Homo sapiens: one gene and its partners. The protein of the gene in region 1 purifies or fractionates together with the protein of each later gene. This does not show direct contact. Each region holds a gene or a part of one and is shown in the gene's direction. Other genes may lie near its edges.

Region 1 (3,293 bases):
GACTTCAGAGTACAGGCTCTTAGGATGTGAGCAGGAGGATGGCAGGCGGGCACAGAATTCAGAAAGAATGAGGGAGAGGCTCTGGCCCTCTGTGACCCGAATCACCGAGCCCCTCTCTCCCCTCAGCTCACAAGTACGTGCCTCGAGCCATTCTGGTGGACCTGGAACCCGGAACCATGGACAGTGTCCGCTCAGGGGCCTTTGGACATCTCTTCAGGCCTGACAATTTCATCTTTGGTAAGTTCCCCCTGCTCCAAGCTCTGATGGCAGACCCCATCACAGGCAAGCCCAGGTCGGTGGACGGGGACGGCTGTGAGAAACAAGGAATGGTCAGCTCCTCACATGATCCTGAATGGTGGGAACTCATCTCTCCATTTTACAGCTGGGCATTGGAGGCCCAGAGAAAGGGTTCTGTGGGGAGAACAGAAACCACTCATGCATTTCAAGTGGAATGAAGTGTAAAGCAGACAGAAGCTTACAGAATTGCTAGAGAGCTGGTGAGACAGAACGGGGCCTCCAGAGGACTCCGGGGTCCAGGAGCACGAGGCCTTGCTGCGGTCAAGAGATCAGGACGTTCCCATGCCTGTGTCCTGGGGTTGGGCCGTGGATGCCACGTTCCCATGTCTGTGTCCTGGGGCGGGGCCGTGGATGCCACGTTCCCACGTCTGTGTCCTGGGGCGGGGCCGTGGATGCCACGTTCCCACGTCTGTGTCCTGGGGCGGGGCCGTGGATGCCACGTTCCCACGCCTGTGTCCTGGGGCGGGGCCGTGGATGCCACGTTCCCACGCCTGTGTCCTGGGGCGGGGCCGTGGATGCCACGTTCCCATGCCTGTGTCCTGGGGCGGGGCCGTGGATGCCACGTTCCCATGCCTGTGTCCTGGGGCGGGGCCGTGGATGCCACGTTCCCATGTCTGTGTCCTGGGGCGGGGCCGTGGACGCGCCACAGAAACAGGAGGGCCTCGCTTCACTTCTGCCTTCCCGACCGCAGCACATCCAGCTGGTAGATGCCAACTCGCATCCAGCCCCCAGCTGCCAGGGATTCTGGGGTGGCTGTTTGGGCTCCTGGCACTGCCAGTCGGAAGGAAGGTATGCTGGAGCAGGAGGGCTGATCCATTCACCCAGGATCCCCTCAGGAGGCAGAGCCTCGCTCTGCTGTGACCCCAAGTTCTCAAGACTCTGTCCAGAGCCCTCGTCCTGAGCACTCAGCAGCATCGGCTCAGGGAAGCCACGGCGGGTATGAGAAGGGGTGCTCAGTGGGGCCTACTTTACAGAAGACAGAACAGGCATGGGGCTGCCACGGCTGCCCTTGGGATGTTCAGGCAGGGGCTGGAGGTCTGGACTGCAGAGTCCCTGGCCCCTGTCTCTTACCCCTCTTCTCCCTGTACAGGTCAGAGTGGGGCCGGCAACAACTGGGCCAAGGGTCACTACACGGAGGGGGCGGAGCTGGTGGATTCGGTCCTGGATGTGGTGCGGAAGGAGTGTGAAAACTGCGACTGCCTGCAGGGCTTCCAGCTGACCCACTCGCTGGGGGGCGGCACGGGCTCCGGCATGGGCACGTTGCTCATCAGCAAGGTGCGTGAGGAGTATCCCGACCGCATCATGAACACCTTCAGCGTCGTGCCCTCACCCAAGGTGTCAGACACGGTGGTGGAGCCCTACAACGCCACGCTGTCCATCCACCAGCTGGTGGAGAACACGGATGAGACCTACTGCATCGACAACGAGGCGCTCTACGACATCTGCTTCCGCACCCTCAAGCTGGCCACGCCCACCTACGGGGACCTCAACCACCTGGTATCGGCCACCATGAGCGGAGTCACCACCTCCTTGCGCTTCCCGGGCCAGCTCAACGCTGACCTGCGCAAGCTGGCCGTCAACATGGTGCCCTTCCCGCGCCTGCACTTCTTCATGCCCGGCTTCGCCCCCCTCACAGCCCGGGGCAGCCAGCAGTACCGGGCCCTGACCGTGCCCGAGCTCACCCAGCAGATGTTCGATGCCAAGAACATGATGGCCGCCTGCGACCCGCGCCACGGCCGCTACCTGACGGTGGCCACCGTGTTCCGGGGCCGCATGTCCATGAAGGAGGTGGACGAGCAGATGCTGGCCATCCAGAGCAAGAACAGCAGCTACTTCGTGGAGTGGATCCCCAACAACGTGAAGGTGGCCGTGTGTGACATCCCGCCCCGCGGCCTCAAGATGTCCTCCACCTTCATCGGGAACAGCACGGCCATCCAGGAGCTGTTCAAGCGCATCTCCGAGCAGTTCACGGCCATGTTCCGGCGCAAGGCCTTCCTGCACTGGTACACGGGCGAGGGCATGGACGAGATGGAGTTCACCGAGGCCGAGAGCAACATGAACGACCTGGTGTCCGAGTACCAGCAGTACCAGGACGCCACGGCCGAGGAAGAGGGCGAGATGTACGAAGACGACGAGGAGGAGTCGGAGGCCCAGGGCCCCAAGTGAAGCTGCTCGCAGCTGGAGTGAGAGGCAGGTGGCGGCCGGGGCCGAAGCCAGCAGTGTCTAAACCCCCGGAGCCATCTTGCTGCCGACACCCTGCTTTCCCCTCGCCCTAGGGCTCCCTTGCCGCCCTCCTGCAGTATTTATGGCCTCGTCCTCCCCACCTAGGCCACGTGTGAGCTGCTCCTGTCTCTGTCTTATTGCAGCTCCAGGCCTGACGTTTTACGGTTTTGTTTTTTACTGGTTTGTGTTTATATTTTCGGGGATACTTAATAAATCTATTGCTGTCAGATACCCTTGCTTGGTGCCAGAGATGTCCTTTTATTCTGGAAAGTTGTGTCCAGTAGGTGGAGGGGCTGACAGGGAGGCCCGGGTGGACAGGCAAGAAGAGCTCATCCTCTCCCAGGCTGGCGGCTGAGAGAGGCCTGCGCTGGGGGCCGGAATGTGTCTCAAGGCACAGCCCGTGGGGAGACCCCGGAAACGGGAAGCCCGGGAGAAGGAACGGGAAGTACCTCATTCCAGACCTCAAGATGCAGCCCTCCCGACTTGGAAATAACCCCACACTCGTTCCCTGGCCTCCCACAGAGCGGCTTGCACCCCAGACTTTTCTCCCACCTGTCTGTAGGCTGAAAGTTGGGGCAGGTGGTCCCTCCTGCGGTGGAAACTGCCATCAGACCTGAAGCCTCGGGTCACAACCAGGGAGGTAGGGAAGGGGGCCCCGAGTGCTCCCTGAAAAAGACGGTGTGTTTAGTGTCTCGGGGCTGGGCCCTGGGAGGGGCTGCTGAGGTCAGGGAGATGCGGCCACAGGACGCAGGCCTGGGCTGCCGGGAGGGACG
Region 2 (7,037 bases), on another chromosome or scaffold:
ATACTGAATTGTTATCTTATTATTATTATTTTATTTTTTTGAGACAGAGTCTCGCTCTGTTGTCCAGGCTGGAGTGTAGTGGCACTATCTCGGCTCACTGCAACCTCTGGCCAGGCTGATCTCGAACTCCTCACCTCAGGTGAACTGCCTGCCTCGGCCTCCAAAAGTGCTGGGATTACAGGCGTAAGTCACAACGCCCAGCCTAAATTGTTATCTTAGACTACCTAATTATAAACATCTTAGGAAACTTACTAGTAACAGGGAACTAAAATTAACAGCTTTGAACTTTCCAATATTCTTATTATATGGCACTGTCATATGCTGTTTCTTGGATTAATGTTGGCTATCCAGTTAGTTGAGAGCGATTCTTTCCAATGAGATGCTTATTGCAAAAAATCACTAACTTTTAAAATAAAGTATGCCCTCAGTTGAAGTATGCCTGGGAAATCTTTCCTTGGTCCAAATCACTGGGATTGATCTTACCCTAAACCCATAGTATTTGTGCTTTTGAAAGTGATTTGAAACTCAAATATTTTGGTTTTTGCCCCCCTCCTTTTTTTTTTCACTGCCCCAGCTTGAAGAAGAGAGTAAAGGAGATTGTACATAAAGCGTTTTGGGATTGCTTGAGTGTGCAGCTAAGTGAAGATCCCCCAGCATATGACCATGCTATCAAACTTGTAGGAGAAATCAAAGAGGTGAGGCAAAGAGTGAATTGTGATGCTTTTCTGGTGTGTTAGGAGTGTTTATTCAACTTCTTGTGTCACCACCAGAAGACTTTAAAGAAATTGAAGGATCAAGAAGTTAAAGTACTTGCCAGAAGGTGGATCAAGAGTGTTTTTGGCTTAATGCCCTTTTTTAAAAAAAAGTTTTAAGCAAACCATGATAACCTGAAGGCATTTAAGACAACAAAGTTATTTCACAAAATCTAGTTTATTTATAAATTTTAATAGGTGTGGACACATTCCATTTATAATGGCCAAAAAGTGACTCAGCCTTTGGGACAGAGAAAGCTTTAGGTGGAGGGACTGTTTTTGCAGCGCCTTTAGCAGTAGCATCAAAGAAGAAATGTATGCATGGAAATTGTCATCAGCTATGGTTGGCTCACAGGCTCACATTAATAAACATGCTTTTCTTTTTTCACCATTAACAGTTTTTTCTTCTATCCATTTAATTGCTACCTAGGGCTTAAATGGAAGCTTAAGTAGCTATTGTAAATGATTTGTAAACATGTTTTTCTGTAGGTTTGTTGAATAAGAAGTAAAATATGTGCAATATTACGTAGCAATTGAGAAGCCCTTATTTGGATAGTTATAAATTACATATAATTAGAAATGATGTCTAAAGAATTTTGATTAAACGTAGCTGTGTTCTCTTGTAGACTCTCTTATCTTTCTTGCTGCCTGGTCATACTAGACTGAGAAACCAGATAACAGAAGTCTTGGATCTGGATCTGATAAAGCAGGAAGCAGAGAATGGGGCGCTAGACATTTCCAAGCTGGCAGAATTCATTATTGGCATGATGGGGACACTGTGTGCACCTGCTCGAGATGAGGAAGTTAAGAAACTAAAGGACATTAAGGAAATAGTGCCCCTTTTCAGGTATGGAAATATGTTAATCATACTCCGTGCAACTACAATTCAGAGGCATTTTCTTTTTTTTCTTTTCTTTTTTTTTTGAGACAGAGTCTCACTCTGTTGCAAAGGCTGGAGTGCAATGGCGTGATCTTGGTTCACTGCAACCTCCACCTCCTGGATTCAAGCAATTGTCGTGCCTCAGCCTCCTGAGTAGCTGGGATTATAGGCACGCACCACCGTGCCCAGCTAATTTTTGTATTTTTAGTAAAGATGGTGTTTCACTACGTTGGCCAGGCTGGTCTCGAACTCCTGACCTCACGTGATTGGCTGCCTTGGCCTCCCAAAGTGCTGGGATTACAGGCGTGAGCCACTGTGCCCAGACCAGAACTATTTTCAATTTAAACTTCCTGAAGTCTTGGTACTCATGGATTTAAAAAAAAAAAAAAAATTTGTAAAATGCAGAAAAGTAAAAAGAAGACATTTACTCATAATTTTACCTCTCAGAGGCATAATCACTCTTATCATTTTGATACATAGATATATTTTTTATACATTAATTTCCTTCAACATTTTCTTTTGAAAAATTCCAAACCTACAGAAAAGTTACAAAAACAGTACAATCAACACTCACAAGCCCTTCATGTGGATCCATCAGTTTTTATCATGTTGTCACATTTGCTATGCTGCCCAGGCTGGTCTGGAACTCCTGGGCTCAAGCAGTCCTCCCGCCTTGGCCTCCCAAAGTGTTGGGATTACAGGTGTGAGCCACGCGTCTGGTCCTCTTTTCCTTTAATGCTATGTTTACTTTACAAATGCTTGCTTCTAAATCCTTTTTTCTTTCAGAGAAATTTTTTCTGTGTTGGACCTAATGAAAGTGGACATGGCCAACTTTGCTATCAGTAGCATCAGGCCTCATCTCATGCAGCAGTCAGTTGAATACGAAAGGAAGAAGTTTCAAGAGATTTTGGAGAGGCAACCAAGTATGTTGAATATTTTGTGGTACTTTTTTTGTTGTCTGTGGTTTTTCATTTTAGCTGCCATAGCTTGTTGCATAATATTATTTTCAGAACAAAACTAAAATTTAGTAGGAGAATAGTCTAATTTGAAGAAGGAAAAGCACAAAATGTTGGGACTACATCTAGAGTTGTTAAGCATTGAAAAGAAAACTTAATTCACAAGCAAAAGGAATGTGAGTAGGCTATGAGAATAGAAATTAAAAACAATGAATTCCTAAATTATAAATGGTTTTTTGATGAAAACACCAGTTTGAAGTAAAATACATTCTTGGTCTTGATTTTTGAAAACATGACAGACATCCTGTGAATGTTAATTCACTTTTCTTCTCCCTGTGTGGCACAGCAGGAAATTTAACTTTGCTTTTGTTCTGGATGCATAAATCTTCTTGTTTCATACCCAGGAAGAGTCTCATTTTTATGAACCTCTCCGATGACTGCAGAAAACAGACGACTCTCAGAATCTAAAACTACGTTGTATTTCTAGGGTGCTTTTTATGGTCTCTGCATTGCTAACTGACATTCTGGGTAAATTTCAGTCTTCAGATTCAATGTATGATGAATTCCATTTGGCCTCTAACTTTGCTGACGAGGAGATGAAAACAGCAGTCTCTGGGTTGGTTGGGTTGCCTGACCAGATTAGTTAAGTGAATGCCCCATGCAGTTGATTCATCCAGCCCCAGGCAGAGGAGTCTGAGGTAGTGCTGGGGCCGGGGCAGGTTGAGAAAGGACAGGGTAGAGGTAGAAGTAGAAGAAGTTTGGTAATGTTTACTAAGTGCCAGGCTTGTGCCAAGGGCTGGATGTACATGATCATATGTAATCCTCACACAGTAAGCTGATGAGCCAGGCACCTTTTTTTTAATCCCATTTTACAGATGTTGGAAACAGGTTTTGGGAGATTTTTGACCAGAATGGATTGACCACAAGCTCACACTCTCACCAGTGTTGTGAGAGTACTGGGAAGAGTTTTTTCTTGTTGTTGTTGTTGTTTTCTTTGAGATAGAGTCTCCTCACTCTGTCACCCAGGCTGGAGTGCAGTGGCACGATCTCTGCTCACTGCAACCTCCGCTAGGCAGAGTTTTGTAGCCTGAAGAGCCGTAATATTAAGGCCTGGACCTGGAAGCTGGGGCATAGTGGAGGACTCACTGGTAGGGTGGAAGCAGCTACAGTGCCTGCATCTAGCACTTAACTCACAACATGAAAGCCTGGGTTTCCCAAAGCTGGGGGGTTACGGAGAATATTATCAGCAGAAGAGAGGGTGAAGCCAGATGGCCCAGGAGTCATGACCGAGAGCTCAGGGTAAACTGGAGCTGCATCCCCCTGCCCCAGTGAAGAGCAAACCACAGCTGTGACCTTGGCCGCCCACTTGGTTTTAAGGAAGCAGGAAGCCTCCACTAACAGAGCTGCAACACCTGCTGGGACCTGACAGGTGCAGTTTTTATCAGATGATGTGTGAGATCCTCCAGCTCTCTCTCTGTATCCCTCAGAGTGCCCCCTGCATTACCAAGCTTAGAAAAGCAGGGGTGCAGGAGGGCTGCTGAAAGCCAGATGGGGCTTCCCTGACAGAGTTCACTTTCCCCCAGGTTGAAAGGAAGCCAGATTGATACAAGGTTAAGATCTAAACAAGGAAAAGCCTCATCATCAGTGTAGAGGATACTTTACACAGGGAAACTCTAGCTGGTGTCTCATCCTATCTGTCTCTAGAGCTGGAGTTGCCAGGGCTTTGGGGTCCATCTCATGCAGTGGTCAGGATGGGAGAGAAGGGAAGGAAGGTTTGTTAAATACCAGGTGGGTGGCAAGGCCTGGCTAGGTGTCATGTATTTGTTACTATTATTATTATTATTTTAGACAGGGTCTAGCTCTGTCCCCCAGGCTGGAGTACAGTGGTGTGATCACCACTCACTGCAACTTTAACCTCCAGGACTCAAGTGATTCTCCTGCCTCAGCCTCCCAGCTAGCTGGGGCTACAGGCATGTGCCACCATGCCCAGCTAATTTTTGTATCTTTTGTAGAGACAGAGCCTTGCCACATTGCCCAGGCTGGTCTCGAACTCCTGGGCTCAAGCAGTCTTCCCACCTCAGCCTCCCAAAGTGCTGGGATTACAGGCATGAGCCACCATGCCTGGCTTATTCATTATCTTGTTTAATCCTCACAACAGCCTGTGAGGTGGGTGTTGTAAATTTGCCTATATCAGGCATCTGAAACTCAGACACATTATGACTTGCCTGAGATCCCTCAGTTAGTCATTGGCACTACTATGATTTGATCCAAGTTTTATTTGATTCCAAAGTTCATACTTTATACTTTATCACTCCACCAGGACATCGATTGTCCCTTAAGTAATTCCGAGAAGCATCCCTTCTTGGTGTCAAGGTAATGTGTGCAGCTTTGTTTTTCACAGATTCCCTGGACTTTGTCACCCAGTGGCTGGAAGAAGCCTCAGAGGACCTTATGACTCAGAAGTATAAACACGCCCTGCCAGTGGGGGGAATGGCTGCTGGCTCTGGGGACATGCCCAGGCTGAGCCCTGTTGCTGTCCAGAATTACGCTTACCTGAAGCTTCTGAAGTGGGACCACCTCCAGAGGCCGTTCCCCGAAGTAGGTCTCCTGAGCCATCTCACTACTCATATTTGTTTTTGTGCTGCTGAACTTTTTAAAAAGAATAGCTTTGGCCAGGCACGGTGGCTCACTCCTGTAATCCCAGCACTTTGGGAGGCAGAGGCAGGCAGATTGCTTGAGGTCAGGAGTTCAAGACTTGCCTGGGCAACATGGCAAAACACCCTCTGTACTAAAAATACAAAAAATTAGCTGGGCGTGGTAGCAGGGGCCTGTAGCCCCAGCTACTTGGGAGGCTGAGGCAGAGAATTGCTTGAACCTGGGAGGCGGAGCTTGCAGTGAGCCAAGATTGCACCACTGCACTCCAGCCTGGGCGACAGAGCGAGACTCTGTCTCAAAAAATAAAAATAAATAAGTAAATAAATAAAATAAAAAATAAAAAGAATAGCTTTATTCTGATATAATTCATGTACCAGAAGATTCTCCCTTTTAAAGTGTACAACTCAGTGTTTTCTAGTATAGTCACAGAGTTACGCATCCATTGCCACTGTTTAATTGAGAACATTTTCATCACCTCCAATAGAAACGCTGCATCCATCAGCGGTCACTGCCCTCCCCCCCTCCCTCCAACGCCTGAAGCCACAGATCTGCTTTCTGTCTCTATGGATTTGCCTATCCTGGACATTTTATTTAAATGAAATCATACACTACCAGCCTTTTGTGCCTGGCTTCTTTCACCAATGTTTTTTCACGTTGTAGCACATATAGCAGTAGTTTAGTCCTCTTTTCCACTGTGTTTTTTTTGTTGTTGTGGTAAAATACACATAACATAAAATTTACCATTTTAACCATTTCTAGTTGTCCAGTTCAGTGGCATTAAGTGCATCCACATTGTTGTGCAACCATTGCCACCAGCCACCTCCAAAACATTTTCATTTTTCCTTCTGTGAAACTGTCTTCCCACCAAACACACCAAACAGTAATTCCCATTGCCCCCGCCCTCTGGCCCCTGGCAGCCACCATTCTACTTTGAGTCTCTGTGAATTGGACTAATCCGGGTACTTAATATGAGTGGAATTATACAATCTTTGTCCTTTTGGGTCTGGCTTATTTTACTTAGCATAATGTCTTCAAGGTTCATTTATGTTGTAGTATGTGTCAGTGTTCCCTTTCTGGGTTTTTTAAAATTTTTTTAAATTTTAGAGACAGGGTCTCATTGAATTGCTCAGGCTAGGTGGTACGACAGCTCACTGTAACTTTGAACTTCAGGGCCCAAGTGATCCTCCTGCCTCAGCCTCCTGGGTAGCTAGGACTACAAGAGTGTACCACCACCCCCAGCTAATTTTTAAGTGTGTTTTTTGTGGAGACAGGGGTCTCGCTATGTTACTCAGGCTGATCTTAAACTCCTGGCCTCAAGTGGTCCTCCCTCCTTGGCCTCCCAGTGTTGGGATTACAGGCATGAGCTACCATGCCCAGCCCTCCTTTCTTTTTTAGGCTGAATAATATATTTTACTGTATGGATGTACCACATTTTGTTTATTCATTCATCAGTTGACAAACATTTGGGTTGTTATTATAAATTATGCTTCTGTGAATATTCCAGTACAAGTTTTTGCATGGACATATGTTTTTACCTCTCTTGGTTACGTACCTAGGATTAGAATTGCTGGGTTACATGGTGACTCTTAAGTTTAACATTTTGAGGAACTGCCAAACTGATTTCCAAAGCAGCTGCATCATTTTACCATCCCACCAGCAATGTATGAGGCTCCAGTCTGTGCTGCTGAATTTTTCTCCTGTTTTTACTCATCTTGATGGAAACCACAACAGAGGTGTGGTTGTTCACAGCTTTATCTAAAGAAACTTCTTCCCCTTCCATGCTGAACAATATTT
Region 3 (7,037 bases), on another chromosome or scaffold:
GCATTCAGACACAGAGGAGCAGATAGGTTAGATAATAGACATTTTCTGTTCTATAATATTTTGTTTGGTCACCAAACAGTGCTGCCCATGTTATCAAACTGATCACCGACTCCCTGACTTTAGGTTCAAATGTTTGAACGTTTTTCTCTATTTGGAATCCTTCTCACCTCTTTAAAAAGGAAACTGAGCTCCTTGTGGGCAAGGATCCTGGCTTCCTGGACACTGCCAAATGTGACTTCGTTTTGAAGCCTAAAAGATGAGTCTTCCCCCGTTGTTTCTGCTGAGACAAGGCTTTGCAGAAGAAATTCTTTGGCAGCTCAGCCCTTTCTGTAACCAGTTAATAAGTTACATTTTCTAGAAATGTTCTAACTTTTTGAGGGAGTTACTGCATGTCTTAGCTTTCTTCTAGATCATGTTTCCAAAAGTTGCCTGCTCATGTGAATCGAGTAGAGAACCAGTTCCTAACCTTCTCCAGGAGATAATTCTGGGAATCTGTATTTTAACAAGCCCCTTGACATTCATATGATCAGACAAGTTTGGTATATACTGTTTTGGATGAGTAGTGACTCTTCCCCTTCTGTTTTGCTGACGTAAGGATTAAAAAACCAAACTGAGCAATCTGGAGTCTCTTGTGATTTGTATCAAGCTCATTTTCTCATATTCAGAATAGTAGCAGCCATTCTCCTAAATTAAACACTACCTGAGGACATGGATTATGTCCTATTTATTTTTGTGTCCTTAGCATCTTGTACCATCTCTGGCACATGGTAAATTCTCGTGACTGAACCCTAGTACAGCATTGTGAAGGACTTAACTTTGCAGAAGAGAGATTTTATTTTGTTATCTAAATAATTTTTCCTTGTGTGTCTTTCATCAGAATGGTTCACGCTGTACTATAGTTATTACTACTCTGTTTCTTCTAAAATTCCAGCAAGGGTTGATATTAAAAAATTAAAAAAGGCTGATAGCTAGGCGTGGTGGCTCACGCCTGTAATCCCAGCACTTTGGTATGCCAAGGTGGGCAGATCACTTGAGGTTGGAAGTTCAAGACCAGCCTGACCAACATGGAGAAACCCCGTCTCTACTAAAAATCAAAAATTAGCCAAGCGTGGTGGCACATGCCTGTAATCCCTGCTACTCGGGAGGCTGAGGCAGGAGAATTGCTTGAACCCGGGAAGTGGAGGTTGCGGTGAACCGAGATCACACCACTGCACTCCAGCCTGGACGACAGAGCGAGAATCTGTCTCAAAAAAAAAAAAAAAAGGCTGATAAATAGTTGTTGGATCCCTTGTAAAGAATCATTTATCTACAATGGACAGACTATCTAGGCTTGTCCTGTGTTTTTTTTTTTTTTTTTTTCTTCAAACAGAGTCTTGCTCTGTTGCCCAGGCTGGAGTGCAGTGACACAATCTCAGCTCACTGCAACCTCTGTCTCCTGGGTTCAAGTGATTCTCCTGCCTCAGCCTCCCGAGTAGCTGGGATTACAGGCACCTGCCACCACGCCCAGCTAATTTTTGTATTTTTAGTGGAGACGGGGTTTCACTGTATTGGCCAGGCTGGTCTCGAACTCCTGACCTCGTGATCCGCCCACCTCGGCCTCCCAAAGTGCTGGGATTACAAGTGTGAGCCACCGCACCTGGCTGTCCTGTGTTTTCTCCATGCTGGAAAAATCAGTTTGACCCTCAGGAAACAAGTCTCAAGAACGTATAGATCTCTTAACCATTTAGGATCCCTGGGTGCCTCAATTGTGAAGTTGTGTTTTTGGAAAACGCCTTTTGGGAGTATGGAAAAACAGGAAATCACAAAACCTACAGAAATGAACTTGCTAGTTTAGCTACTATTCTAATGCTGGTCTATGGTGTTTGAGGTTACTCATTTATGATTAAGCAACCTAAAATAAATGGAATCTGGCTAAAGCTTTTTTTAAAAAAAACTCTTAAGTTTATTTTTTCATTTTATTTATTTATTTATTTATTTATTTATTTATTTTTAAGTAGAGACGGGGTTTCACCATGTTGGCCAGGCTGGTCTCAAACTCGTGGTCTCAAGTGATCCACCAACCTCGGCCTCCCAAGGTGCTGGGATTACAGATGTGAGCCACCGCGCCTGCCCTGGCTAAAATTTCTTTGCAAAGAATTATTTAAAATGTTCAGTTATCCGGGCACGATGGTGCATGCCTGTAGTCCCAGCTATTCTGGAGGCTAAGGTGGAAGGATCACTTGAGCCCAGGAGTTTGAGTCTAGTCTGGGCAACATACTGATACCTTTTCATTTAAAAAAAATTTTAATAGTAATAAGAATGTTCAGTCAATATCAATAGAATTAGGAAGAATTTCTATTTCCTTCCTTCATTAATTCAACAAATATTTATTGAGCAAACATCTGTGTGTCGTCTGGCGCTGTTGCACAGGTCAAACTGGCTTCTTAAGAATGAAATCCTAAGTGTGAGGAAGAAATTGCATTGTATGTGTGGTCTGACTGCAGAAAACCTAAAATAAGTAAACTGCTGCCATGATGAAAAGTCAAGGAGTAAGTTGGCTTTTCCATGTTAGTAAGACAAGTGAAAAGGCATGTTTCAGTCACGATGTAATATTTCCTAAAATTTTGAAGCTATGGGGAGAAAGGTTTGGGAGGAATTTCATAGGGAAAAGAAAATGTGGGGAGGGGGAATGTAAGCAAACAATACTTAGTACATTTTACAAAATTAAAGTCACTTTGTAGGTATATAAAAAGTTTTAAAAGTTGGTTTATTAATGAGAGTAGTGTATTACATTTCTTTTCAAGCAGTAGTTTAAATATTAACCAGTTTACTTTTTTTTAAAGTCAATTTACTTTTCCAGCCTGGACAACATGGTGAAACCTCGTATCTACAAAAAATAGAAAAATTAGCTGGGCGTTGGTGGCTCACGCCTGTAGTCCCAGCTACACAGGAGGCTGAGGCTGGTGAATGGCTTGAGCCCAGGAAGCATAGGTTGCAGTGAGCCGAGATTGTGCCACTGCACTCCAGCTTGGGGACAGAGTGAGACCCTGTCTCAAAAAAAAAAAGTCCATTTACTTTTAAATGCTTTTTTCTTTTTTTTTTGGCAAATTGAGACAAAAGCTGCTGAACTTTCCTAAATCTACACTGTTAGTATTATCAGTTTGTGAAAAGCAAGCAGAAGGAGAATAAACATGAGTATGATATTAAAACAAATTTGTTATAATGTCTGTATTTAGGGTCTTCTGGAGGAATAAACAGAATTAAAAAAAAGAAAAACAAAAACAAAAAAAATTTATTTTTAGTAAATGAACCAGGGGTAGAGGTGGAGGACAAACTAAATTCATTGAACTAAATCACATGGAACTTTTCCTAACCAGTTTCATTTTCTAAGCTCTGAGAGTTACCACTTTCTACTTCTGATGGTTCATTATTTTTGTAAGCTTCTGAAAATCAAAAGCTTGCCCAGATTGAGATAAGTTTCTGCCCCGCTCACGTTTTTATTTTCATGATTTGTCATTATTTCCAAATCTCAACCATTTTATTTCATGTGGTGATGAAGAGTTCTAAAAGCAGGTAAGAAGAACAGTAAAGAAAAATACATTTCCTTTTCTAAGAGTGTAGATCTAAAGTCTCTTATCTGTAATTCAGAAATTGAAATTGTAGAATGACCAAAATTTAAGACTATCAAGTTTTCATAACTCATTTGCCAGTAAAACCTGACCTGAACTGGAGAGAGGCTACTTTATAATCTTTTTAAAATATCACTTAGCGTGATTGGTCATATTAATATGTTTAACTATGAATTGCTGCCCTTTACCTTGCTAGGTGTCACTATGTGGTATATGCCCCATATACTTAAGACCAGATAATTCAAAGTTCCAAATTATACATGGTCCCCAGGATTTCAGATGAGAGACCACAGATCCACATTGGGCTTGTTTTTACCCGTCTGTGGCCTAACGTTATGAAAGCAAGGGGGAAATTCCTTCTCTAATCTCTGCAAGTATACATGGGATGCTACTACCAGTGTCCATTCTGTTTGTCTTTTAAAGCCTAGACAGGACAGGGACATAAGTATCAGCCTCTAGACTAAGCTTGTCCAACCTGCAGCCCAACACAAATTTGTAAACTTTCTTAAAACATTATGAGATTTTTTTGCGATTTTTTTTTTTTTTTTTTTTTTTTTTTTAGCTCATCAGCTATGGTTAGTGTTAGTGTATTTTATATGTGGCCCAGGACAATTCTTCTTCTTCCCATGTGGCTCGGGGAAGCCAAAAGATAGGATATACCTGCTCTAGACAGATGGTTCTCAATGTGTGGTCCCCACCCTAACAGCAGCAGCAGCAACAGCAGCATCCCCTGGGAACTTGTTAGAAATGCACATTCTTGAGCCCCATCCCAGATCTATTGAATCAGAACCTCTGGGCCTGGGGCCTGGCCAGCTTTGTTTTATAAAACCTTCAGGGCATTGGGATACACTCTCAAGTTTGAAAACCACTGCTCTAGATCGGGGTCTGCCAACTACAGCCACAGGCCAAAGCCAGTCAGTCACCTGCTTTTGTATGCCCCAGGAGCCATGAGTGGGTTTTGCATTTTTTTTCTTTTTTCTTTTTCTCTTTTTTTTTCTTTGAAATGGAGTTTCGCTCTCGTTGCCCAGTCTGGAGTGCGATGGCACAATCTCGGCTCACTGCAACCTCCGCCTCCTGGGTTCAAGCTATTCTCCTGCCTCAGCCTCCCGAGTAGCTGGGATTATAGGCATAAGCCACCACGCCCGGCTAATTTTTTGTATTTTTAGTAGAAACAGGGTTTCTCCATGTTGGTCAGGCTGGTCTCTAACTCCCAACCTCAGGTGATTCACCCTCCTCGGCCTTCCAAAGTGCTGGGATTACAGGCGTGAGCCACTGCACCTGGTCTTTTTTCTTTTCTTTTTTTTTTTTTTTGAGACGGAGTCTCACTCTGTTGCCAGGCTGGAGTGCAGTGGTGCGATCTCGGCTCACTGCAACCTCCGCCTCCCGGGTTCAAGCGATTCTCCTGCCTCAGCCTCCCGAGTAGCTGGGACTACAAGCATGCCCCACCACACCTGCCCAGCTAATTTTTAACGGGGTTTCACCATGTTGGCCAGGATGGTCTCGATCTCTTGACCTCGTGATCTGCCCACCTAGGCCTCCCAAAGTGCTGGGATTACAGGCGTGAGCCACCACGCCTGACCTACATTTTTTAAACGGCTGAAAAAAAAAAGAATTTCGTGACACATGAAAATTATATAAAATTTAAACTTCAGTGTCCATAAAGTTTTATTGGAACATGGCCACATCCATTCATTTATGTATTGTCTTTGGCTGCTTTTATGCAGCATCAGTGGAATTGAGTAGTTGCAGCAGACACCAAATGGCCCAGAAAGCTGAAAATATTTACCATCTGGTTCTTTGCAGAAAAAATTTGCTGCTCTAGGTTGATAGTCAACAAACACGAGGAGTAATCACAGAATAATCAGAGACTGAGACCTTCCTTTATCTGAAAATGTCAGCGTCTCCCTAGAAAAAGAAATCTACAGAACTCTTATATTTCTATGTACAGGTGCTGTTATGATCATCACATCATTACATAGCTCTGCATAGTTTTACGTCAAAATAACCTTTGTATTATTTTGGAGGAGTAAGAGTCAAGGAGTTGCTGGACACTTCACATTTTGTCATTATAAAAAATATTTCATAGTCCAAAATTTTTTAGTTCTTTGGGGGAGAGAAACTCATTAAAATTTTTTTTTCTGATTTTCTTCTGAGCTTTAACATTTCTGTATTCCAGGACACATTACCTTTCATGCAAGATTGAACTGTGTCCTGGTTAGAGTGTTGCGTTTTATTTTGTGCAAGATTGGAACCATCTAGATTACTCCTTAAATGGTTGTTATAATGTCCCAGGTAGCCCATGGTTAACTTTGTATATCTACCTATTCAGTCATCTCTCTGTGTTTACTTAATTTATGGGAAAGACATGAAGGAAGAGGTATTTGATGAACTGTTCGTGTTTTTCATGATCTTTTCTGGAAGCTGAAAATTTTCTCACTGGACAGCATTAAATTTTACTCTTAAAAACTTCAGCAACTTAAGAGCGTTCATTCAGCTGTCTGTAGTATTTATATATGCAGTTTTGATGATATTTTTCTTGATCATTTAACGGTGAATATCTGTGGGCAATAAGTCTTGTACAGTGCATTGACATTTAATCATAAATATGTATTAACTATTTTATTTTTGTATGTGTGTGTCTTAATAAATTATGTTTCTTAGGCAACTTGTTCCAGCGATGGCATGTTCCTCTAGAACTCCAGATGACAAGACAAATGGCTAGCTCTGGTGCATCAGGGGGCAAAATCGATAATTCTGTGTTAGTCCTTATTGTGGGCTTATCAACAGTAGGAGCTGGTGCCTATGTAAGTAGAAAAGCAGCGTGTATAAAGAAGCTGCCAAACAGCTCCCATTAATAGACTCGATAGTATTCTGCTTTAAAACTTTTGCAACTAATTCCCCTTTCTCCTTTTGGAAAAATTTTCAAAAAGCCTTCTCTTAAGTGCCTGCTGCCTAATATCTTATGGGAGCCAATTCTGGAATGACTGAAATTTAATCTCATGTTGATTGATTTCTGCTCTTTTCACTTGTCTTTTTCTTCTTTACTTGAAAGCCACTATGTTTTCCTAGATTCGAGTAACCCACAAAATTGTACCTGTTTTCTTGGATGTCACACACTAACCTGTGAATAAAGTCAAAATCCATTGCAGCTCCTTAGCACAATATTTGATTTTGACCTATTTGTCAGACATTTTATTTCCTCAGCTTGAGGTTCACATTAAAAAAACAACAGCCTTCAATCAAAAATATTAAGTGTTCCTAAAAGGAAAGCTATCCCTGAATCTTACCCAAAGACTAAATTACAGAAACAGGGCTAGTATCACTGATTTTAGAATGGAGTTTGTTTGAGGTGAGAAATATGGTGTTTAATTGCTATGTAGTATTAGCACCATTATATCTCCTTAAATGAACTCCGATCAGCTTAGCAGG

What was found. The genes of interacting proteins can lie anywhere in the genome.
Region 2: the proteins of TUBB3 (region 1) and TCP11L1 purify together in Homo sapiens (affinity purification with mass spectrometry; 3 studies listed by BioGRID and IntAct, with this or other methods). This does not show direct contact.
Region 3: the proteins of TUBB3 (region 1) and AIFM1 purify together in Homo sapiens (affinity purification with mass spectrometry; 3 studies listed by BioGRID and IntAct, with this or other methods). This does not show direct contact.

What each region holds. Positions count from the first base shown.
Region 1 is NC_000016.10:89,933,342-89,936,634, forward strand, and holds the end of TUBB3 (tubulin beta-3 chain), read left to right. Parts: intron 1-126; coding exon 127-237; intron 238-1,387; coding exon 1,388-2,463; 3' UTR 2,464-2,756; downstream 2,757-3,293. UniProt on the Homo sapiens protein: Tubulin is the major constituent of microtubules, protein filaments consisting of alpha- and beta-tubulin heterodimers. Microtubules grow by the addition of GTP-tubulin dimers to the microtubule end, where a stabilizing cap forms.
Region 2 is NC_000011.10:33,056,541-33,063,577, forward strand, and holds part of TCP11L1 (T-complex protein 11-like protein 1), read left to right. Parts: intron 1-574; coding exon 575-695; intron 696-1,378; coding exon 1,379-1,599; intron 1,600-2,418; coding exon 2,419-2,555; intron 2,556-4,974; coding exon of another isoform or gene 4,975-4,989; coding exon 4,990-5,186; intron 5,187-7,037.
Region 3 is NC_000023.11:130,155,836-130,162,872, reverse strand, and holds part of AIFM1 (apoptosis-inducing factor 1, mitochondrial isoform AIF precursor), read left to right. Parts: intron 1-6,269; coding exon 6,270-6,412; intron 6,413-7,037. UniProt on the Homo sapiens protein: Functions both as NADH oxidoreductase and as regulator of apoptosis.